3 separate regions of the Homo sapiens genome follow, and regions 1 and 3 are each linked to region 2. The links come from fine-mapping of genetic effects on gene expression. A gene starts in region 2. Each other region holds a variant in brackets. All regions are shown on one strand. Distances are from middle to middle.

What was found. PIP is the estimated chance that this variant, and not a neighbour inherited with it, causes the effect. A credible set is the group of variants that fine-mapping cannot tell apart.
Region 1: its variant is the best candidate, but not a certain one, in a credible set for the expression of OFD1 in breast (GTEx, PIP 0.65).
Region 3: its variant is the best candidate, but not a certain one, in a credible set for the expression of OFD1 in monocytes (TOPMed, PIP 0.53).

The regions. Positions count from the first base shown.
Region 1 is chrX:13,761,946-13,768,245 of GRCh38, forward strand. It overlaps OFD1 (OFD1 centriole and centriolar satellite protein), which reads left to right. Exons shown (of 23, transcript NM_003611.3): 18 at 399-499; 19 at 1,800-1,910; 20 at 5,182-5,339; 21 at 6,109-6,279. Among named protein-coding and RNA genes, the nearest start is that of OFD1, 30 kb to the left of the region's middle. The variant G/A (reference allele first, on the strand shown) is at 3,845.
Region 2 is chrX:13,731,928-13,738,087 of GRCh38, forward strand. It overlaps OFD1 (OFD1 centriole and centriolar satellite protein), which reads left to right and starts at 2,821. Exons shown (of 23, transcript NM_003611.3): 1 at 2,821-3,156; 2 at 3,321-3,419; 3 at 4,551-4,751. The coding sequence starts at 3,145. TRAPPC2 (trafficking protein particle complex subunit 2) reads right to left here and starts at 2,693. Exons shown (of 6, transcript NM_001011658.4): 1 at 2,598-2,693; 2 at 2,117-2,258. RefSeq lists enhancers at 2,195-3,394, 3,163-3,734.
Region 3 is chrX:13,790,542-13,801,733 of GRCh38, forward strand. All of the region lies in intron 2 of GPM6B (glycoprotein M6B), which reads right to left. Among named protein-coding and RNA genes, the nearest start is that of GPM6B, 21 kb to the right of the region's middle. The variant C/A (reference allele first, on the strand shown) is at 5,182.

The sequences.
Region 1 (6,300 bases), 30 kb after region 2:
GGATAAGACACACACATATGCTGAGTTAGGGCGCTTTGCTCACTCAAGGTTGTGGTGTTGCATCTTCATCTGGTTCATGCTGATAGTGTGCAGAATTTTTTTTCAGAAATGTTTTATGGTTATTTCCTAGGAATAGCATTCAGAGTACAACATTATTCTTTATTAACAACTGTAGTACCTACTTCACAGCATGAAATAGTTACAAGGAGTAACTGATTAAACAGGTATTAATTGCTGAGAACAATGCCTAGTGGTGGTGGTGAGGTGGAGCTATTTACAAGACAAAGAGAAAGGGAATTTTGTAGAGCCTTTTCTTGAGTCACAAAAGGCTTTTTGTCACCTTGTACTCTTTGGTTTTCCATTATTGAAACTTCACGAGTTTTATCCTTCCAATCTAGTCTTTATCGAAGACAAACTGAACTTCAAGACAAAAGTGAATTTTCAGATGTGGACAAGCTAGCTTTTAAGGATAATGAGGAGTTTGAATCATCTTTTGAATGTAAGTTCAAATATAAATACCAGTTTTTATATGTTGAAAATCTAGAAAGCTTAGTTTTGGTGAAACGTATCCATTGGTTTAAAAAGAAAAGCAGTTACAAATTGGGTCATTATTATTTTGTGATACAACCACAAGTACAGATGTATCACCTCATTTTTCTACCATGATGATTTTCATGTGTGTGTTTACTTTTTAAAAATTTCAGTATGACTAATAATTTCAGAGTTTGAGCTAAGCTTATAAATGAATTATTAACTTATCAGATTTTAAATAAGTGATTTTTATTTATTTTTTCCTTTGATGGAATACAAGAATGTTTATTTTTATTTTTTTGAGATGGAGTCTCTCTCTGTTGCCCAGGCTGGAGTACAGTGGTCCGATCTTGGCTCACTGCAATCTCCCTCCTCCTCCCAGGTCCAAGTGATTCATCTGCCTCAGCCTCCCGAGTAGCTGGGACCAACCACAGGTGCATGCCATCACACCCAGCTAGTTTTTTTGTATTTTTAGTAGAGATGGGGTTTCACCATATTGGCCAGGCTGGTCTTGAGCTCCTGACCTCAAGTGATCCGCCTGCATCGGCCTCCCAAAATGCTGGGATAACAGGCATGAGCCACTGCGCCCGGCCTAAGGATGTTATTTTTTAAATATACTGATTCAGTTGATTGCCTCAGATTTAGAAAACCTCATTTTTAGTAAAAGAATAGAGATAAAAGAATATTAAGAGTCCAGAAACTGGTGTCCTGGCTATGGCCCTGCCTTAGACTGTCTTACTTTGTAGCCACTTTGTAAGTGTAAAATAAGCATGTAGAGCCTATCATCTCTAAGGTTCTTTCCAGCTTGAGAAATCTTTATATTTGCATATAAGCTATTGGTTAGCCTTGTAAACTTCATCTTCAAATCTGAAAGTGTTAATATTTTGAACAGTTAAATGAGAGGGCTTGGTAAATTTTGTAAATATTTGTTAAAGTCTTTGTGTTAAATCATTGATATTTTAATAGAATTCAAATGATGATCAGCAAGCCAATTGAATTCTTCACTGTCACTGGGTTGATTTTCCTGTTGGGTAACGAATCTCATTTTGTAAACAAAGTTAATTCTTTCAACTACGAGAACACTCTGACAAGCAAATACGTTGCCAAGTGGTTATGTTGGGAACTTCATAGAATCCTGTTAGGAAAGGGCGCACCCAGTTACTTTGGCTTCAGTTCCCGTGCTCCAGTCAGTTGCCCCCACACTGCACTGCCCTTCTTTGTCTTGGTGTTATTATTAAGGACTCATGGGACAATTGTGCCTCATGCAGCTGCAGGGAACATGCCAAGGCAGTTGGAAATGGGCGGGCTTTCTCCTGCCGGGGATATGTCTCATGTGGACGCTGCTGCAGCTGCTGTGCCCCTCTCATATCAGCACCCAAGTAAGTTCTTTTTTTGAACTAACAGTCAGCAGGGTCGCATACTAAATACCAGTCCGTGTGCTCTGTGAATTATTTCATGTATCACTGAAGTCATCTTGTAGGTGTAAATTAGTCAAAATCTTGGGTTGGGGGTTATAGGTGTCATTATATTGTTAATGACATTTCTGAAGTAATTCCCATGTGAACATGTAAAGACAGTGCTGAGAAAGGACACGTTGGAAGGAAAGGCTTCTCATTTAGGCTTCCCAGGCCAGTTGCTTAAAAAGTGTTTTCATTTACTCTTCAGTGCCTGGCATAGTAGTTGGACTTTTCCCCAAGACTCTTCTGCAAAAACTGTTCCTTGGGAACCTTAAAGTTTGGGAAATCACAGTGAAAAATTGAAATAATAATTAACTCCCAGCATATATCTTTAATATGATTGTAACATTTAAATATTATTTATTTTTCTATCTACTTGTTTCCTTTGTGTCTTAAGAAATTAGGACAGAAAAACTTCGTATTTCAATCTTTGGAAAAGCTGTGACACCGAGTTAGCGTAGCACTGGAGGAAAACTGGCCATCAGACTTCTCTTCTCTGGCCCACTTCCTCTTTTTCCTCTTCTCCTCCAGATTACCCACTTCCCTCCCTGCGGGTGGAGGGAGACGGGAAGAGAGCCGTGGGAGCTTTGTGCTTTGTTCCAGGGCTCAGCCAACAGCCAGGTCCTTTTCTTCTTGGACCAAGTGTTTAATCCTCAAATCTGAAAGGAATTTTCTCAAGTAAAGCCACCTCTTAGTCCCTCCCAAACGTTGGAAAAACATCATACCCAAAACCCCTGTTAGCAGTTTCTTGGTTTTAGTCATGGTACCCAGGAACATATAAAATAACTGAAAGAGGCAAGAGATTTTGAGAGGGTTGATGTTGCTGATTCCAGAGTAAATCTGCTTTGGAAAGCATTCAGTGAGACATGATCTAGAGCCTTGTCTCTGCTGGGCACTTTGCTCAGCGCTGAGCATATAGCTCAAGCCCTCGCCTTCCTGGATTTCTAGCAGGGGAGGCAGATGGTCAGCAGGCCATCACCCAGGACCGCAGCAGGGAGGGGCTGCAGCAGCTGAGTAGGGGCCGTGGCCACAAGAGGGAGTGTCTACAGGCACTCATTTGGCACAGACCTGAGCGAGGGAATACAAATAATGTGATAGGATAAGGGAAATCAACTGAGTAACTAGGTGTTCTGCTGCTGAGATGGAACATAGATTATAATATTTGCTTTAAAAATTATTAAGCAGCATGGCGAGTGACATTTTAGTTATTGAGAAATTGTTATATTTGTCATTTCATCTCTTCATCTGGGCACAAAGGGAATTCAAAAAGGTTGAAATTTGGTGTCTCGGAGGTGCCCCGTGGACATGCTTCCTTCCTTTCCCCTTGTGTCCAAGAGATTTCTGTATACCACCCTGCAGCTACAAAATATACACCAGAGTAGAGAAGCAGCTCACTCTTCCTCTTTATTTTGTAATTGGTGCTTAAACAACATTCCTATTTTGAGATTACTATTCCATATAAGAAAGCAATCTTGTTTAGGAGTAACTATTTTTTCTTCTCTAGCAAGGAGGAAGTTGCATTTCTGCCTGTGGAAATGATCAGCTGTCTCCTCTGGTATTTTAATTTCATGAGAAGGATTCAGAAGAGATGGGGGAGAGAGAGAAGAAACTGTGTTGCTTCTCTCCTATTAGTAAAACTCAGTTCCTGCTGATCACTTTAGAACAAGGCACAGCAAAAAGGTTCAAAGTCCTCTGCTGAACCTATGAATTTTTCTACTTATTAGCATTGCTTGGGTTGAAAAAAAAAATGTAGGTTATGGGTCAGAGCCAGAAGAGAAAGGTCAGCATAATTGTCTCTGGGATTGGGGTCTAATTAAAACTTTTGAGATATAGGGACCTGTGCCAAGATGCAGAGG[G/A]AACAGACAAGTAATTAAAGTATGGACCTTGCCTGGAAGGAATAGAAGTGGAAGAAACAAGTACATGTAGTTTTTGACAGATCAGGTACAAGATATCCTGCAAGTGAGATGCTGGAGTGGTTAGTTGTCACTTCAGGAATAAGGAGGAGGTGGCATTTCAGTTGGGTCTTGAATAGCATTTCAGACTTTGTGAGAGCAAGGGAGTGCTACAGGCTGAGGAGACAGTGAAGGTGAATGTCAAGCAAGGAAGATAGAGCCACGGCCAGGCCCCAGTGAGTGGGTTGGTACAGATGAAATATTTCTCGTACAAAGTTGGTGGTGATGTAGGAAATCAATCTGGGAAGAAAAGGGCAGGTTGTCAGAGCCCAGACTACCATGGCGTAGGACTCTTATCAGAGCGGAGATGCTGCACAGCAGATCCACATCTTCCCCTCAGGAAATGCCTGGTGCAGATGACCACAGGTTGTTGGAAGGCAGAGACTGGCTTCAGGAAGAGCCTTGACTGGGCTGTTTCAGTAGTCCAGGGAGATGGTGAGAAGGGCCCCTGTTGCAGCCACAGGACAGGGAGTGTGAACCTGCAAACACTGGTGGCTGAGTGGATAGAGGGTAGAAAGAGCATGATCGAAGGACCGGGATGATCATGCCTGGGACGAAGCTAGTGCTGTGGGGTTTCCACATGCGGATGGCAAGGAACTATCAGAAATGTGGACGCGAGGCTAGGGAGAGAGACCAGGAGTAGAGGAAAAGATAGGGAAAGGATCCATATACAAGTGATGGCTAAAACCCCAGGAAGGGCTGCCGTCAGTTTGGAGGAAGTGGGGAATGAACAGTGAGATGGCTGGAATGGCGGGGGGAGGGCAGTGGTGTGATTTCTGTTCTGTTTTGTTGGGGTAGGACAGACTTGAGCATCTTTATGGGAGTAAGACTTCTAAAACTACTGTGTACAGAAATAGGGATTAATGGCTCAGTCTGGGTCCTAAAGATAGGGGAGGGATTATAATCAAAGGCAGAGGCAGAAATGCAGGGTTTGCCTTGGAAAGGAGGGAGGAGATCTGTGAAGAGGATGAGAACATGTGACATGGAAGGAGGACAGTTGGAGTTGGTTATGGTGAGGGTGACGTATTTGTCTCAGTCAAGTGAAGTAGGGTACAGTTCAAGGAGTGGGGTCGGGAGCTTGAAGTCGGTGAAAATGAAATAGTGACTTGAAGCAGGTCACAGAGTCAACTAAAAGCCAAGCAGAGTCTCCGTGGGTCTTGGCAAGGGCTCCTGCAGACTGGTCCTGCATTCATTTGAATAATCTGATACTGGAAGCTACTCTTTATTTTCTGTCCTATTAGGTGTAGATCAGAAACAAATTGAAGAACAAAAGGAAGAAGAAAAAATACGGGAACAGCAAGTGAAAGAACGAAGGCAGAGAGAAGAAAGAAGGCAGAGTAACCTACAAGAAGTTTTAGAAAGGGAACGAAGAGAACTAGAAAAACTGTATCAGGAAAGGGTAATAAGTATGACTTGATTCTCTGAACTGGTTGCTCCATTGTACACCTTTCGTAAGTACATTGAGCTCAGGGAGGGGAGTCAATTGGTGTACAAAGTCAGAGGTGCGGCAGATGCCTTAAAAGGCATCCCTGTCCTCTCCTTGTCTTAAAAGCAGTGGGAAAGGCTGCACAGAATGTGAAGCTTAGGAGTTTTGTAGTAAAGGATAGTTTTTGAAGGTAATTTTTGTACATTCTCATCTGATCCTTAAAACAAGCCTGTAAAAAAGGTAGACTGTGCTTTGCTGCAGAACTTTGCTTTGAAAACAGGGTTTAAAGAAGAGACTGTCAGTGCCAGCTAGCTGGGACTAGAACCCAAGGGAGGAGTGGCTGCCAGTTCACAGTTGCTTCCAGGGGCACACACTCCCTCCCTCCTTCCTCTATTTCTCTTCTTGCCTTCTGTGTCCCAATTCTAGTCCTAGCAGATGGATTACTCTGTCCACTTAACACACCTGCTAAGTCTTGCTTGAATTACTCTAACATATGAATGTTCCTTGGACTCTTGGTTAATTCAAGTCCAAAGCACAGGACACTTGCCAATTAATACCTTCCTTCATTGAGATGACATATTTGTCTTCCTTTGATGATAGCAATGACTTCAATTTTAAAAATTAGTCCTCTGGCATACAGGCTGTACTTGAAGGATCGGGATTAATATTAGTGCATTTTTAAAACACTTAAAAGTTTTACAAATGTATTTGTGTATTTTCTGTTTTGGTGCCTGTTTTATAGAAGATGATTGAAGAATCACTGAAGATTAAAATAAAAAAGGAATTAGAAATGGAAAATGAATTAGAAATGAGTAATCAAGAAATAAAAGACAAATCTGCTCACAGTGAAAATCCTTTAGAGAAATACATGAAAATCATCCAGCAGGAGCAAGACCAGGAGTCGGCAGATAAGGTGCCAGTGCCATGGGCAGGG
Region 2 (6,160 bases):
GGTGAAATTAACAAGATAGAAGTTAAGAGGATAAGAAAGCAAGCCCTGTACTTGGGCTTAAAAATCAACTGTACAAAAGGACAAGGGAAACCTAGATTAAGAACAGTTCATCTACATCAACCCAAAAGTTCTGCAAGCTCAGTAAGAGGCAAAAGTCTGATAGGTTTGTCAAAAAAGCTAATCAATTCTAGGTGGCATTAAGAGCAAGGTCAGGGAGAATGCTGATGTCCTCTTCAATAATATTATCATCTTTGGGGAAGGTACTCAGTTCTGGGAATCATATTGTAAAAGGATCAATAACTCTGTGTGTTACAGGGGAAGGGAGGGCAGGATCTAGGCTAGGAAATGCTCTGGAAACCAGACAAGAGCAACTGAAGTAACAGAGGATGTTTAAACGGAGTAGGGGAGACCTTTTTGGGGTGGAAAGGGAGTGGGGTACAGCACAGTACTATCTTTAAATACGATAAGCTATCTAATGAAAAAGGGACTTGGCTAGGGATGGCAAATGAGTTTCCTTTCATAAGCGAATTCTAATCAACTGGTAGTGACTGCCAGGAACTGGCGCTGAGAAAGATTCTGAGACTAAATGTGGTCACCAGGAAAGAATGCTGTGATCAATTATCCATGTCTGCTATGAATTTGGGGAAGTGCAGTACCTACAGGAGGGCCAAGTATTTGCTGACTCTGGACTACACAGACTTATTCCAAACCGTTCCATAGGCCAAGCCCAGGGCTGCTCATTTGAAGTCACTGGGAAACTAGAAACTAAGGGGTGGGTGGAACACCAACAGTGCCAGAGTGGGAGGATGCTCAGTGAACTTGGAAGTCTCTTAAGTTGTAGACAAATGCAAGATAAAACTCATGGACTCCAGTTCCAAAGACATCCATTTTTGTAGCATGCCTCTTTACAACCTCTATAGAAGAGCTTCTAGAAAAACTGCCCTGTGCTCGCGAGAGCAGTGATTTCAGTTGTTCCATAAACCTGGGGTCATGAGACTAAACTGGTATGGCATGGGACATGTCTATTACAATGAGGAGGGGCAGTAGGAATACTACTGATAGGTCTTTAATGTGACATTTTTCTATTAATATTATAAGCAATTCTCCCTCCCCTAGAAGTTATGCTAGTTTTTGGAGAACATTTTATCTAATTATATTCATGTATTCAACTGTGGGACCAAAGGTGGAGGTGGGAGTAAGGGGGTCTTCAGGAACATTTTTTTTTTTTAAACAGTGGACAAGTGATTCTACTTAACAACATTTACAACATATCAACATCTTTTTAGAACACTGTTTTCATCATTCCACTCAAAAGCCTTTGATGCATCTCAGCTACAGGATCATGTACTAGTATTCAAGATTCCCACATTGCTCCACGTGTCTTTTCTCAGCCCTATTGTTCCACCTCTGCTAGCGTTGACTCGTTTACTTATTTTTTCTCCCAAATTCACTTTGACTATATCGAGTTCAGAGCTACTATCATTTCTCTCTTCATGCCTGGAATGTTCTCCTTTATTCTGTCTGCAACCACTACCCATCCTTTAAAATCCAACTAAGCCTCTCCTCCTTTTCCATTGTTTCCAACAAAAACTTACAGGTTCTCCACCTCCTATGAAGTCCTGTCACTCTTACTGCCTCTTAAATACTTTAAGTTTTTCACAGCCAGAGATCAAAACTCATCGTACTCATCTTCAATGCTGTACACAAAGCTGACATCCAATTCTGTCCTCACAGGACTTAGATACCATATAAGGCTTATATTCCCAGCACACAACTCTGGAGTCAGGCTAGATTCCTCACTGCTCCCAAGAAGGTCGTGGCTTTTTTTTTTCTTTTAATGATTCCTTTGCTCATTTTTCCCCTTCCTGTGATGTTCTCCTTTTTGCTCACCACCCGAATCCTACCCATCAAGGCCCCGATAAAGACACACTTTTTCCACAGAGATGATCTGGATCACTTCCATCTTCAACCACCTCCCCTTTAAACTCTTTATCCAGTCTACAATGTATCTTAGTTCTTGTTCAATTCTCTGGCTGTAACATTTTCATTATCGCTTCTGAGAGGTTTGGTTCCTTTCCTTTCTAATTACATTTAAGCATCATGAGGACTGGCTCACCTTTACCTCACAGCACACAATGGTTGGTACTCTAAAACGTTTAGCTCTGTGGATCTCAACCCGGAGCGATCTTGCTTCCAAGAGGACATCTGGCAATATCTGGAGACATCTTTGGTTGTCACACTTGGGGGAGAAGGTGATACTGACAAAATAGAGAGCAAGGATACAGCTAAACCTACAATGCACAGGACAGCCTCCCAAAACAAAGAATCTTCCGGCTCCAAAAGGCAACAGTGCAGCCGTTAAGAAACCCTGGGTTAGCTGAATGACCCAGTGAACCGCGAAACCACAGCCCCCGAGAGGGCGGACGTCTGCAGGTGGAAGGGCTGCGCGGATGAGCCAGCGGAGGGCTGGCAGGTCCGGCCCGGCCACCCCGGGGAGGGGTGGAGGTACAGGACCAACATCCGCGTCACGCAGGGGCTACGAAGTCCTCCAGGGACTCAAAACACCCGCCCCCCGCCGCACTTGCTCCATTCCCTACCTGCAGTGGGAGGCCGACAACGGAAACGCAATGTCAGTTTCCGCGGAAGAGACCCGCGCCCCGAACCTGTAGCCAGAACGCCGAAGCAGTTCTCGCGATACCCTGGGATGTGCTCTCGCGATACGTAGGCGGAGCTTCCGGCCGGTGCTGGGCAACCAAGCTCATGCGCCGTAGCTCTTCAGCTCGGGAAGGCTATATTTAGCAGGTTTCCGGAAGTTGCCGGACTGGCTGTGAGGCGGTCCTGCCTCGCTGCCTTCAGTCCCTAGTGTCTGGGTCCCCGCCCTCCAGCCGCCTTTGAGTCGTGCCTGGGTCCTCGCCCTTGCCTCAGAACCGCGAAGAAAGGAAGCTCGCGTGTTTGCTAGAAAACCTAGTTGGGAGTGCGAGGCAGAGAACGTTCAGCACCTTTGTTCCTCCCGAACCCTCGGGACAGAGGCAGGGTTCTGAGGGCAGGGATTCCCCCTCGTCTTGGCCCCACCGCCCGGGCTGGGCACTAAACTCGGGCCGCGGCGGGGCGAGCGAGGCGGGCTCCGGAGGGAGCTGACGCCTGATGATGGCGCAGGTAGACACACCTGCCCCTTCTCGGGCGGAAATAAAGTCTTGTTTTGTGTTCGTTAAACTTTCGCCGCTAGGCCTCTTATGGCTTCCCCGGAGGCCACTGGTCTGTTTTCAGACGTTCACGTTCCCTCTGCCCCGCAGGTAACCTATAACCATTTTGTCTTTTAGTCCAACATGTTTACCGTGGCTGATGTGTTGAGTCAAGATGAACTGCGCAAAAAGCTATACCAGACGTTTAAGGATCGGGGTATACTGGATACACTCAAGGTATCGGATTTAGGCGTATCTGTGTCAGCTTTTACAAGTGTAACCTGTAACAGGTAGTTCAAATTCAATCAAGGTTTAGGTTTTAATAATCGTATGATACATAGATTGTATTGGTGAATTACATTTTTATATTCCCGAATAACTCTGTATCCTGAAACATTACAGTCTCTTGAAAATGTTTGAGAAAATGTTGAGTTTGAGTCGTCTTAAAGGAGCATATTCAAATAATTAATTGAACTGACAATAAGATAGGAGAAGGAAATATTTGTATAATGAACACAGTAAGATTAGGCTTGTTTTATAAATATGGCTTATAGGTTCCTAAATTAATAAGTGGGTTTGTAATACATTTGGATGAAGGACATTGACACCATATAGAAAATACTAGTGTACTGCTTAATAATAGTTTGGGAAATGAAAAATTTTATCTTTAAACTATATTGAAATGTATGAATGTTTAGTTTGGGCAGAAAATACCTATTAGTATGCTTTATATTTGGATTAACAGCCAGGAGTAGGATTAGCTCAACGTGTTTTCATTGAAATATGCATTTCAAAAGCATATTTTACGTTTAAAATATGTAGCTATATCCTGTGTATGTATCCTTTTTTAATTTAAATTATATGGTGAGCATTTCCCTGTTTCCTTAAAAGTTTTTTGAAATCTTCATTTTCAGTGGCAACAGGCTTATCTTTGGATATTTTTGTAATGTATATAGCAGTCCCCTGTTGTTGAATATTTTGGTTATATTCTCCAACAGTCCACAGAGGTGTGATGAAGTGGCAGAATTTTTTCCTATACTTAATATCCCAATCGTAAGCTGCTGAAATGGGCTTCTAGGGAAGTGAAGTTATGAGTCTGCAAGTGGATCTGGCTAACCACCCGTTTCATTTGGAAGCTGGGGAAAGAAAGCTTTTTCTAGAACCCACTGGACTGCTTGTCTCACGGGGTAAGACAAAGTGTGCAGGGGAAGGTTTCTAACTTCTGGCCATGGATCTAGAACCATTATGGAAATAGAAGGAAGGTTTCCAATGAATGTAGCTCATCTGTGTATATCTCTAATGAAACAGTCCTGCTGAAATTTCTTTCCCTTGTGTTTCTTTTTTATTTTTGTTTTTATTTTATGCTAGACACAACTTCGAAACCAGCTAATTCATGAGTTGATGCACCCTGTATTGAGTGGAGAACTGCAGCCTCGGTCCATTTCAGTAGAAGGGAGCTCCCTCTTAATAGGCGCCTCTAACTCTTTAGTGGCAGATCACTTACAAAGATGTGGCTATGAATATTCACTTTCTGTTTTCTTTCCAGAAAGTGGTTTGGCAAAAGAAAAGGTAAAGTCTTTCCTTTTCTGTTTCTGAAGTTTTTATTAACAGGTTCTTCCTCTGCTGACAGTAAAGTGCTGTATGATAGCTAAGTGCTCCTCGACTAGGTCCATTTCTGTTTCCTCTTTGAATTCACATTGTACCTGCACATAATATATTTGTTATATAACAAGTGGGTACTAAATTTGAAATTAATTTCTTGGCGTCTCATTTAGTCTCACATAAAACAGTGATGTATAGAATCTCTAAATGTTTCAGACCTATAATTGATCTATCTATCCTCTATCTTGTCTAATAAGACTCTGCCAATCTGCTGAATGTCTGCTGTAAGCTTGGCACTGTGATAGGCACACTGCAGATGTTTTGTGTGTTACGGATGAGGAACCAGACTCTGGAGAGGTGAATCAATTTGCCCAACATCAAGTAACTTTTAAGTGACAATGCAGGGTGGTAAATCTAGATCTCTAACATGAGCTCTTTTTTTCCTGCACTAGTTTCTTCAGATGTTTCTCTTTGTAATTAGATAAGTGAGAAATACGTAATTTAAAAAATCTGTAAAGTTCTCAAATATTAAAAACACTTGTTTTTTTTTTTTACTACTTTTCTAATTATTTTAACTATATTTCTTCACCATTACTGTTGAACATTAGTACTACTTTATTATTTTAAAGGCAGATACAGCAGACTTTCCCTGTGGATATGTGCGTGTTTTTTTTTTTTTAATAGACTTTATTTTTTCAGAGCAGTTTTGGGTTCACAGCAAAGTTAAGTGGGAAGTACAGAGAATTCCCATATACCTGCTGCCCCTACACACTCATAGCCTCCCCCACTGTCAACATCTTGCATCAAGGTGGTACATTTGCTACAATCTATAAGCCTACCCTGACATGTCATTATCACCCAGAGGCCATAGTTTACAGTGAAGGTTGCAGTGAGCCGAGATCATGCCACTGCACTCCAGCCTGGGTGACAGAGCGAGACTGTCTCAAAAATAAAATAAATTTCACTCTTGGTGGTGTTCATATGTTTTTACTTTCTTTGTGTTTTCTGTAATTATCCAAAAGTTTCATATTCCAAAGTTTTAGTGACACAAGCTTAGTACAGTATTTGAATGAAAACTTAAATAATTTGCATTTCTTCATAAGCAACCAAATTTTATTTGTCAGCATTAGGAATTTATTTATTAATTTATGTTTTTGAGACAGAGTCTTGCTCTGTTACCCAGTCTGGAGTGCAATGGCGCAGTCTTGGCTCACTGCAACCTCTGCCTCCTGTGTTCAAGCAATTCTCCTGCCTCAGCCTCCCAAGTAGCTGGGATTACAGGTGCCCACCACTACACCTGGCTAACTTTTTTATTTTTAGTAGAGAGGAGGTTTCACCATGTTGGCCAGGCTGGTCTCGAATCCTGACCCCAGGTG
Region 3 (11,192 bases), 61 kb after region 2:
TCAGGTGTGGCATCCTGAGTCTGTTTGAAGTGCCTGCTTTCATATTCGATGGTGTGTGATGTTTTTTCTCTAAGACGTGGCCCACTGGGTTTGGCCATAACCCTCCAGTCACTTGTGAATCAAATGGCAAGTTCCAAGGACTACAGTTAAGAAAAACAAAATGTTCCAAGTTGTCCAGCCATCTTGAAAAGAGTGCAGCTAGAGTGCATTTTTGTGAGCCAAACAAGTACTGTTAACCTTGGAATTTTTCATGCTTTAGTGTCATGCCATAGACAGGGTCTGAGAAGACGGGAATTGAGTCACCTGAGAAAGCAGATTTCTAAACACACACACTCCAACCACCCCCTAAAGTGCTGGGAGTGCCTGTGCACAAAAAGGAAGTAGATCTGGGATTCAGGCTGTCCTTAGTAGTCATAGGCAAGCTGATGTTTTTAAATATAGGGGTGGTGCCAAGTACCAGCAGAACACCATGCTGTTAAAAGTTTACGATAGCTAAGGAAGATCAGTGCTTTTCTTGGATGCTCCTATAAATCCACAGACTGAATTTTCCCAAGCTTCAAACCAGCAATGACAACATTGGGTAACGTGAACGAGAAAAAATAAGGAAAGCATTTTTTTGATGACTGTGATGTATTCATGTAAAAAAATAATAATCAATGCCAGGTTTTTTTTTTTTCTTTCTTTCCTGAGAAAGAGTCTCACTCTATTGCCCAGGCTGGAGTGAGTGGTGTGATCTCCGCTCACTGCAGCCTCAACCTCCTGGGTTCAAGTGAGTCTTATGCCTCAGCCTCCCTAGTAGCTGGCATTACAGGCACATGCCACCACATCCAGCTAATTTTTTGTATTTTTAGTACAGACGGGGTCTTGCCATGTTGGCCAGGCTAGAATGCCAGGCTTTCTAGCACATTTTACTAGTAATTCTCAATACCTCTCACCAAACCCTAAAAGCCTCTGTTGGGCTGTCTTATGCCTTCATTTAGCTGGCCTCTGGATAAAAAGAATTTTAGGTTTTGATTCACACAAAAATTACAGTGTACATTAGCCTAAGACAGTTTAAATATAAGCCATGTAGTAGGGAAAAAAAAAATACACATCAATGCCTTTAAGTCTCAAAGGCTATTTTGTCTCCAGTATCCCTAGAACCTTTTGTGCAGAACAACAGAATAAAACACCTTTTGTCCTCAGGCTTGTGGATGGCCGTTGCCATGGCTGTGAGTTCATAATGGCCAAGTGATTTGCCCAAGTTGTCTGTGATCTTGGCTGCAGATTTAATGCTGGCTCAGACGTAGGGCTGGCAGGAACAAGGGCTCAGATTCTTCCCCAGGGAATGAATGTCACACATACATACACACACACACACACCCTCCCAAACACCCCCCAACAAACACCACACAAAAAAACCACCCCCTTACCTCTCTACATGGGGCCTTCCTTGCTATATTACTGATTCCTAATGAGCCACAAAATTAAAAAGAAAAGATGCAGGAACCAAGCTTTACAACTTTCAAGCAACAAGCAATGGGAAAATGGAGAGGGCGAAAATCCTAAGAGAAGCAGCAGTGAATGTCAGTGGACAGAAGCTTCCCTGATTCTGAGCTGGCCAAGCAATTCTCAACAGGGGGTGACTGTGCCCCTCAGGGGACATTTGGCAATATCTGGAGATATTTTTCGTTGCCAAAGCTGGGGGAGAGGGTGCTTCTGGCATCTAGTGAGTAGAGACCAGGGATGCTGCTCAACACCCACAGTGTACAGAATATGCTCTTATAACAAAGAATTACCCAGCCCCAGATGTCAATAGCTCCAATGTGGAGATTCTCTGAAGTAGCACAAAAAACATCTACATCGTTTAGACCACTGGTTCCTAATCCAGGCAATTTTGCCACCCAGGGACATTTAGCGGTGTCTGGAGACAGTTTTGGTTGTTACAACTGAGGGTGGGGGACACTACTGGCATCTAGTGGGTAGAGGCCAGGGATGCTCCTAAACCTCCTAGAATACACAGGACAGCCCCCATCCCCAAATAAAGAATGGTCACACCCAAAATGCCAATAGTGCTATAAACCAAAAATAAAACTCTGGGCCGGGCGGGGTGGCTCACGCCTGTAATCCCAGCACTTTGGGAGACCAGGGCAGGCAGATCACGAGGTCAGGAGATCGACACCATCCCAGCCAACATGGTGAAACCCCGTCTCTACTAAAAACACAAAAATTAGCTGGGTGTGGTGGCGCATGCCTGTAATCCCAGCTACTTGGGAGGCTGAGGCAGGAGAATCGCTTGAACCAGGGAGTTGGAGGTGGCAGTGAGCTGAGATTGTGCCACTGCACTCCAGCCTGGCGACAGAGCGAGACTCCGTTTAAAAAAAAAAAAAAAAAAAAATTCTAAGCACCCCCCACCCCACCCCCAACCATCTGAATAGATTCCTGGTCTCTGCCAGGGGGATTCCAAAGTTAGCCTGAAAAAACTAGTTCAGGCCATGATTGGAAGGGAGAGTCAAACATACCTCATTATACCCTCCTCCCTTCTGGAATTCAGGAAAAGCCAACCAGCATTAACATCAACAGACCTTAAATCTGCTAAGAGACATTTACAATCTATTCTCTCTGAAGCCTGCTACCTGGAGGCTTCACCTACAGGATAAAACTTTGCTCTCCACAACCCCTTATCATCATAACCCAGACATTCCTTTCTATGGATTCCAGGTCTTTACATAATTTTTAAATCTTCCTATAACCTGCAAGCCACCCTCTGACCCCCTTTGAGTTGTCCTGCCTTTCCAGATTGAACCAATGTACATCTCACAGGTATTGATTGATGTCTCATGTCTCCCTAAAAGGTATAAAAGTAAGCTGTGCCCCGTCCACCTTAGGCACATGTTATTAGGATCTCCCGAGGCTGTGTCACAGGTTCTTAAGCTTGCTAAAATTAACTTTCTAAATTGATTGAGACCTATCTCAGATAGCTTTGGGTTCACAGTGCCAAGAGTGAGAAACCCTGCTCTAAGGTTACAATACATAATTCTGGTCTCAGACATTTGGTGACACTGCCAAATTCTAAAATCTTAAAAAGAAATGCTTAAAAGAAAACTAACTTTCTTGGAAAACATTATAGAGCAGAGGTTCTCCATTTTTCCTACACATTGGAATAATCTGGGGAGCATCTGAAAATCCTGATGCCCTGGCTTCACCCCAGACCAATTTTATCAGAATTTATTGGGGACGGGACTCAGGAATTAGAGGGTTGGGGTTTGTTTTTTTGAAGCTCCCCCGGTAACTTCAATGAGCACTCAGTGTTATATAGCACAGGTCAGCAAACTGTGGCCCACCAGCTAAATCTGGCTCTCCTCATGGCCTGCAAACTCAGAATGATTTTGACATGATTCCAAGTGGTTACTTTTTTAACCGCTTAGAATATATTAAAAAACCTATTTTGTGACACATGAAAGGTACACAAAATTCAAATTTCTGTGTCTATAAATAAAGTTGTATTGGCACACAGCCACGCTCATTCATTTACATATGGTCTATGGCTACTTTCAAGCTACAAAGGCAGGGTTGAGTTGTTGCCACAGGTATTTACTATGTGGCCCTTTAAAGGAAAGTTTTGCAGACCTCTGTTAAAGAGCAGTGGTTCTCTCTCTCTCTCTCTTTTTTTTTTTTTTCCCAGATACAATCTCACTCTGTTACCCAGGTTCAAGTGCAGCAGTGCAATCTCAGCTCTCTGCAACTTCTGCCTCCTGGGCTCAAGCCATCCTCCTGCCTCAGCCTCCCAAATAGCTGGGACTACAGGAAAACTTTAACCTGCGTATAAATCTCCTCGGGACTTCATTAAAACGCAGATTCTGTTCAGGCAGGTCTGGAAAGGACATTGAGCTCCCAAGAGATTCTATCCTGCCTGCCCACCAGTCTCACTCTGAGCCAGGAGTGGGCCCTCAAAGACGGTCTGTGCAGCCCCGGCAGACCTCAAGATCCTTGCAGGAGGACTGTGAAGCCAAAACTTTTTATAATAGCACCAAGATGTTATTTACTTTTTTCACTGCTTGACATTTGCACAGTAAAACTGCTGATGCCTGAGCGTGAATCGGGCAGTGGCTCCATAGTGTACTTAGCAGGAACACATTCCTCACTACCACGCGCTCGCAAGAAAATAAATTAAAAAGCCAGTTTCACTTCCAAATGTCCTCGATGCAATAAAAAATTATTAATTTGATTAAATCTCAACCCCCGAGTATGTGCCTTTCGAACAGTTTGTGTAATGAAATGAGTGAGAGGATGCAGAGAGCCCTTCTACCACAAACCAGCGTGTGACAGTGGGCTGCAGGAAACATTCTTATGTAACTGAGTTATGAGCCAAACTTGTACCTTTCTGGGGGCAAACACCCCCTTTCTTGAAAGAATGCCTGACAAGATATAGTTTTTTAGACTTAAGTATTTGGCAGAAACTTTCCCAAAAATGAACAGCTTGTCACTTCAAAGAAAACAACTGATAGTATCTGTTGCCAATCAATTTTGGAAAACTTGTACCTGCCATAGTGAGACTGACAGCTTCCAAATACTTACCAGACTTCTTGATGAAATTGGTGGTGACATTAACCAATGAAATTTTTTTGACATGGTTTAATTAAATGTGTCAACGTCTGGAAGATCTGCACAACTCAGAGAACCAATATTTTCCAAATAGCCAAGGGAAAATAATTCTTGAATATAAGAGTCAATCAAAGTGCAAGATCAAGCAATGAATTTTAGTGGAAAAGAGTACAAAAATATCATCAATATGGTTTCAGATTCCACATTACAAGTAGTCTTTAAGAAACCACTAGCTGCTGAATTTTGGTGTAGTATCAAGGAAGAATTTCATAATTATCTGCAAAGGCCATTAAAACACTCCTCCATTCTCCAAGCACATACCTGTGAGAAATTTGAGTTTTCTTCATATACTTCAACCAAAGCAAGATACCCCAAGATGCCTCTGAATGAATGCAGAGGCAGATGTAAGAGTCCAGCTGTCTACTGTTAAGCCAGATATTAAAGAGATTTGCAAAAATGTAAAACAGTCCTATTCCTCACACTAAAATATTATTTTCTTTTTGAAAATCGTTATCTTTCCTAAACATTACTTAGGTTGACATATAATGGATTTGCTATTATTTTAAATGACTAAGTTTATTATTAAGTAATAAACTT[C/A]TCAGTTCTAATTTCTTTTCTTTTTTTTTTTTTTTTTTTAAGATGGAGTCTCGCTCCATCTTAAAAAACTCAAAGGCTGGAGTGCAGTGGCACGATCTCAGTTCAGTGCAACCTCTGCCTCCCGGGTTCAAGTGATTCTCCTGCCTCAGCCTCCCAAATAGCTGGAATTAAGGCACATGCTGCCATGCCTGGCTTATTTATTTATTATTTTATTTTATTTTGAGATGGAGTTTCACTCTTGTTGCCCAGGCTGGAGTGCAATGGTGCCAGCTCGGCTCACTGCAACCTCAGCCTCCCAGGTTCAAGCGATTCTCCTGCCTCAGCCTCCCAAGTAGCTGGCATTACAGGCACGCACCACCATGCTGGCTAATTTTGTATTTTTAGTAGAGACGGGGTTTCTCCATGTTGGTCAGGCTGGTCTCGAACTCCTGACCTCAGGTGATCCGCCCACCTCGGCCTCCCAAAGTGCTGAGATTACAGGTGTGAGCCACTGTGCCTGGCTGGCCTGGCTAATTTTTGTATTTTCAGTAGAGATGGGGTTTCGCCATGTTGACCAGGCTGGTTTTGAACTCCCGACCTCAGGTGATCTGCCCACGTTGGCCTCCCAAAGTGCTGGGATTACAGGCATGAGCCACCATGCCCAGCCCTCAGTTCTAGCTTCTAATATAGAAAATATTTATAGGCACAACTCAGAAGAGCAAAGGCGTTTTGGGGTCAACTGTTTCTAAGCACATAAAGGGACCTAACACCCAGAAAGTTCTGTGAACCACTAATATAGTGCATTAAAAAGATGTGAAGTCAGTTGACAGGGGCTTCCTGTCCAAGAACAAAGTGCGAAATCAAATATAGGTTGCTTCTCAGTTCTCACGTCTTTCATGCAGTCCTGGACATAAAAGTTCAACTACATAACGATAAGAATGTGGAAACTATTTCTAATGATAGAAAGGAAATCACTTTTTGGCAGGTCCTTTTAGAAGCTTGTCCTAAAATCTGTTTAATAAGGGATTTTCATTTTTGTGAAAACACTATGGAAGTCTTAAAATAGATGAGCCTCTAACATTTGCAATATGGTACTAGCAGAAGATAAGCAAGTCAATAAAAGCAATGATACGCTTCCATGACTGGGAATAAACAAATCCAACAACCAGATACTTGTTAGTCTCTTCCTTTGCCTTTTGTGGGAACTGGCTTTGGTTTTCCCAAAGGCTTTTAGCCTGGTAAAGTGGGACAGCAAGGAATCATGGAGATCAATGGAGAGTAGGGGAAGCCAGCTCTAAGTCCAGATGACACAGATTTTAAGAGCACAGCAATCTGGAGGCTACTCCAGACATTTGAGAAGTATTTAATATCTGCAATTTTGAGCTTTAGCAGCAATCAGTTTCCTTGACCATCTGGGCGACAGTGTCTCTACTTTCCTGGATTCCATTCCATTCAATGAGTGTCTGTCCAATACCTGCCATGTGCAAGCCACTGTGGTGGGGTCTGCAAGTGTGCCCTCCTGGCTTTGATCCTTGTGGGTGGGGTGAGGGGGGCGGTAAGACACACAGACACATAAGGTATCACTAAAGTAGAATAAAGAGAGTGCTGACACAGGGATATGGGGGAGTGAGGTAGGGACAGATCTCTTTGGTTGGTGTGGGTTGCTAAGGCAAAGGTTTATGGATGGCAGGAGGTGAAGAGGCCTTGAAGAACAGAAGGATTCCATGAAAAGCACAAAGGAAGGACAGCAGGACCCATGTGATGTGGGAGACGTGGGGAGCGTTCAGGGTGTAGCCGAGTTCATCAAGGACACCAGGGTAATGGTGGGGAGAAGTCAGGAAGGTAGGTCCCCCCATTGCCTGGTCCATGGAAGATGTCCAAGCCAGCCTCAAGCCTCTGTGCTTCACTTTGCAGCAAGGGGAAGAGAGGGAAGGTTTGTGAGCAGGCGAGGCGTGACTCAGGATGTGCTTTTAAGAGATGAATCTGGCACTGGTGTGTGGGCTGGACTGGAGTGGGTGCAAGCTCAACTCTTCAGTGGTAGGCGGTGGCAGAATGGGTCTTCTGAGGTTTATTCATGGGGGCAGGACATCTTCAGTAAAAGCAGGAAGGATAAAAATTGGACAAAGCTGTGGAGCTATTAAGCAATCAACATCATGCAACATTTTCTATTCGGGTGAGAAAGGGTGAGAGAATTTATGTGAACACATCTTCACAAGGGCCATTCTAGAAAATGCAAACTAATCCACAGAGAAGGAGAGCAGATCAGTGGTTGCTTGGGGAGAGTGGGAGCATAGGAAGGATGGAAAGAGTTGGGAGTGGCAGCCACATTGCCATGCTGCTCATGGTGCTGCTTTCATGAGCACACACGTATGTCAAGGCTTGTCAGACACTTTAAAGAGATGCACCATATGCATATCAATTACACCACAAGAAAGCGTTTTCAGAAGACCTGTTTGTGAAGTTCAATTTCTACAAGACACACTAGTAATTTAAAAAGGTTGTGAACCCCTTTGAGAAACTAAGGATTGGTGGTGAAAGCCAAGAGCCACATTAACCTGGGTGATGGGAACCCTCCAGGCAGCAAGGCACAGCAGAGGCATCCTCTGGACTGAGGGTAAGGACAGCAAGGGTCAGGGAGGCCTTAGGGCTTTTACTAGACAAGCAGAGGGCAGGAGGCTACAGTGAGGGGGAAGGAAAATAAAGGGCGCTGAGGAAGACATACCTGTTCCTCTAACCACAATAACACACTCATATGCCCTGCATACATCTCTGTATGCATAGGGTGTTTATAGCACGTGCTATATGCAAACACACGTGTATGGTATTATGTTGCATAAATAAATATATGTAGGTTTAAATGTATTGGTTTATGCACTGCGTGCCTTTTAAAAGAGTGAGTTTCTCTTCAGGAAACACCGATACATAGATTGTATATAATATTCCAGACTTATCAAGCTATCCATGCCTGCAATAAGCTTAACATCTGGGACAAAGCTACCCCATGGACTTCTACTGCTTCACTTAGAACCAATTTCCTGACTCAAAGCGTAGGACCTAGCCCAGGGGTTCTCAACTCTTGGTACTATTGGCATGGGCCATCCTTTGTTGGGGAGGGGCCGTCCTGTGCACTGTAGGATGTTTAGCAGCATCCCTGACCTCTACACCACTAGATGCCTAAAAGGCATCTCCTGAAAGGCAGAAACTCCCCCGGATTGGGAAACACTGGTCTACCACAGTGGTTCTCAACCTTGGCTGCACAGAGGATCACCTGGTGGGGGAGCTTTCAAGAACGCTGATGCCTGGGTCCCACCCTCAAGATTCTGAATGACTTGGTCTGGATGTGGCTTCGGAATTTTAAAAGACCTCCCCTTCCTTCCAGGGTTCTACTGTGAAGCTCAGGCTGAGAACTTCTTATTCAAGAAAATCATCCCACAAAGTTAACCCTATTTACATGCAGATGATTCTAGAAACCTCGATTAGCCAACCTAATTTTTTTTTTTTTTTTTTTTTTTTTTTTTTTTTTTTTTTTGACACAGAGCCTTGCTCTGTTGTCCAGGCTGGAGTGCAGTGGCACAATCTCTGCTCACTGCAACCTCTGCCTCCTGGGTTCAAGTGATTCTCCTGTCTCAGCCTCCCAAGTAGCTGGGACTACAGGCACCCACCAATACTCCCGGCTGATTTTTGTATTATTATTATTATTATTTTTTTTTTAGTAGAGATGGGGTTTCACCATGTTGGCCAGACTGGTCTCAAACTCCTGACAACGAGTAGCCAATCTGAACTTACTTAACAAACACCTGCTGAGCTCCTATGCAACTCTCAGAGTGCAAGGTCTTGACCAGCCTGGCCCAGGAAATGAGCCATGTACACAATGGACACTAAAATTAGACAATTTCATATAGAGTCACACATCATGAGTGCTAAAAATAAAGTGATCATCATTCAACACTATGAACGACTGCTTTCTTGGTCCTAGGTCCCGAGCCAGGCCAAAGCAGGGAGCAAGGCATGAAGACCTCTGCTCACAGAGAGCTTAGAGTCTAGTACCTCAGGAAGGCCGTCAAACACCTGCCAGGTACTCATTTAACCCAGTGATACATTCTCTGAGAGGTGAGGCTTTGAGAAAGTGAAGAGGTTATGATCATTAAGGAGATGGAGGATGCATTTGCACTGTGAAATGTTTATACAGACTGTGGCAGGCAGCTAAGACACCACCCCCAATGATCCCCACAAACCTACATTCATGGCCTTGTGTAATTCCTTCCCCTGAATGTGGGCTGGACCTAGTAGCTTACTTCTTAGGACTAGAATATGGCAAAAGTGATGAGATGTCACTTCCCTGATTAGGTTTCAAAAAATTGACTTCTGTCCTGTTAGCATTGTCTCTCTGGCTGGCACATTCTCTTACCTGCTCACTTGCTCTCTCTATCTGATGAAGTCATCTGCTATGCCATGAAGTAGCTATGGAGAGCCCACACATGGAAAAAAATCAAGGGAGGTTTTAGGCCAGCAGCTTGTGAGGAACTGAGGCCCTCAGTCCCAAAGTAACCAAGTCCTGCCAGTAGCCACATGAATGAGCTTGGAAGTGGATCCTTCCCCAGTTAGGCCTTCAGATGAGACTGAAATCTCATTAGAGTTTCTGAGACAGCTAAGCTGAGTCCAGACTCCTGACCTAAGGAAGCCGAGATAATATACATTTTTGTTTCTAGCCACTATGTTTTGGAGGAATTTGTTATGCAACAATTGATAACTAACACACAGCCTGAGCTCTGATGTTTGCCTACAGCTTTACAATCTAATGTTTTTGCATTGGCTCTTATACACAAAGATATAGTGGCAATAGCGAAACATTACTTCAAGAGGAATTTACTTCAAATTCAATAGTACTGTCTGCTAAGGATGTGGAGGTTTGACTTTGAGCATCTTAACTGTAAATACATATACAGGTTGAACATATACATACACAGGCTGAACTGAAACGATACTTTACCAAAGATGTTATAATGAGGGGTTATGGCCTTCTATGTATATAGCAGTGGTGGTCAAACTTTACTGTGCATTAGAATTGCCTGGGGGAGCTTCTTAAAATGGGCCAAATTTCTGGGACCCATCGCAGAGAGGGTAGGTGGGGACTGGGAATCTGATTTTTCTTTTTAAGAGATCGGGTCTTGCTATGTTGCCCAGGCTGAACTTGAACTTCTGGGCTCAAGTGATCCTCCTGCCTTAGCCTCCCAAGTAGCTGGGACTACAGATGTGTGCCACCATGCCCATATGAAATCTGAATTTTTAACCAGCATTCTTAGCGATTCCGATTCAGGGCATTGGAACCTCATACTTAAAAAAAAAAAAAAAGAAAGAAATGATCCCCAGCACTACATTTAGTAAACCACAAATATCTTTTCTATACACAGGAAATAAAACTTGCTAAAGTGCACTGAATAGAACACTAGATGAAAGTAGCTCACAGTATCCACTTAACGGGACTTGGTTTATTATGGGAAAACTCAGAGAAGGACCTGAAAGAGGCCAGAGGGGCTGAGCTTCTAGAAAGTACCAAGAAATTCTCTGAAGAAGGGCTGAGCCTTAGTTGACAGCCTGTGAGCAGGGAGTCCCTATTCCCCACAGAGAACAAGGATTCTGGGGCCTGGAGGGCAGAGGATGAGGGATGTTTGATGGAGAAGATTTTAGGAAACTGAGTGCCGAGCAAAGTTTTTAGGTGTTGCCTAACATCAGTAGATAGAGTATTGCATTTTGACACACTTTGCAAATTCTAATTCAAGGATTGGCAATTGTTTTCTGTAAAGGACCAGATGGCAAATATTTTTGGCTTTGCAGGGTGTATAGTTGCAGCTTCTCAACTCTGCTAGTGGAGTACGAAAGCAGCCACAGACAATCAAATGGGCCTGGCTGGTTCCGATAACATTTTCTTTACAAAAACAGTGGGTGGCATCACCAGCCTCGTCTGTCAAATCCTCACAGGAATCTCGATTTATTGCCACTGGGAAACAGCACATGAATATAAACAAGGTTTT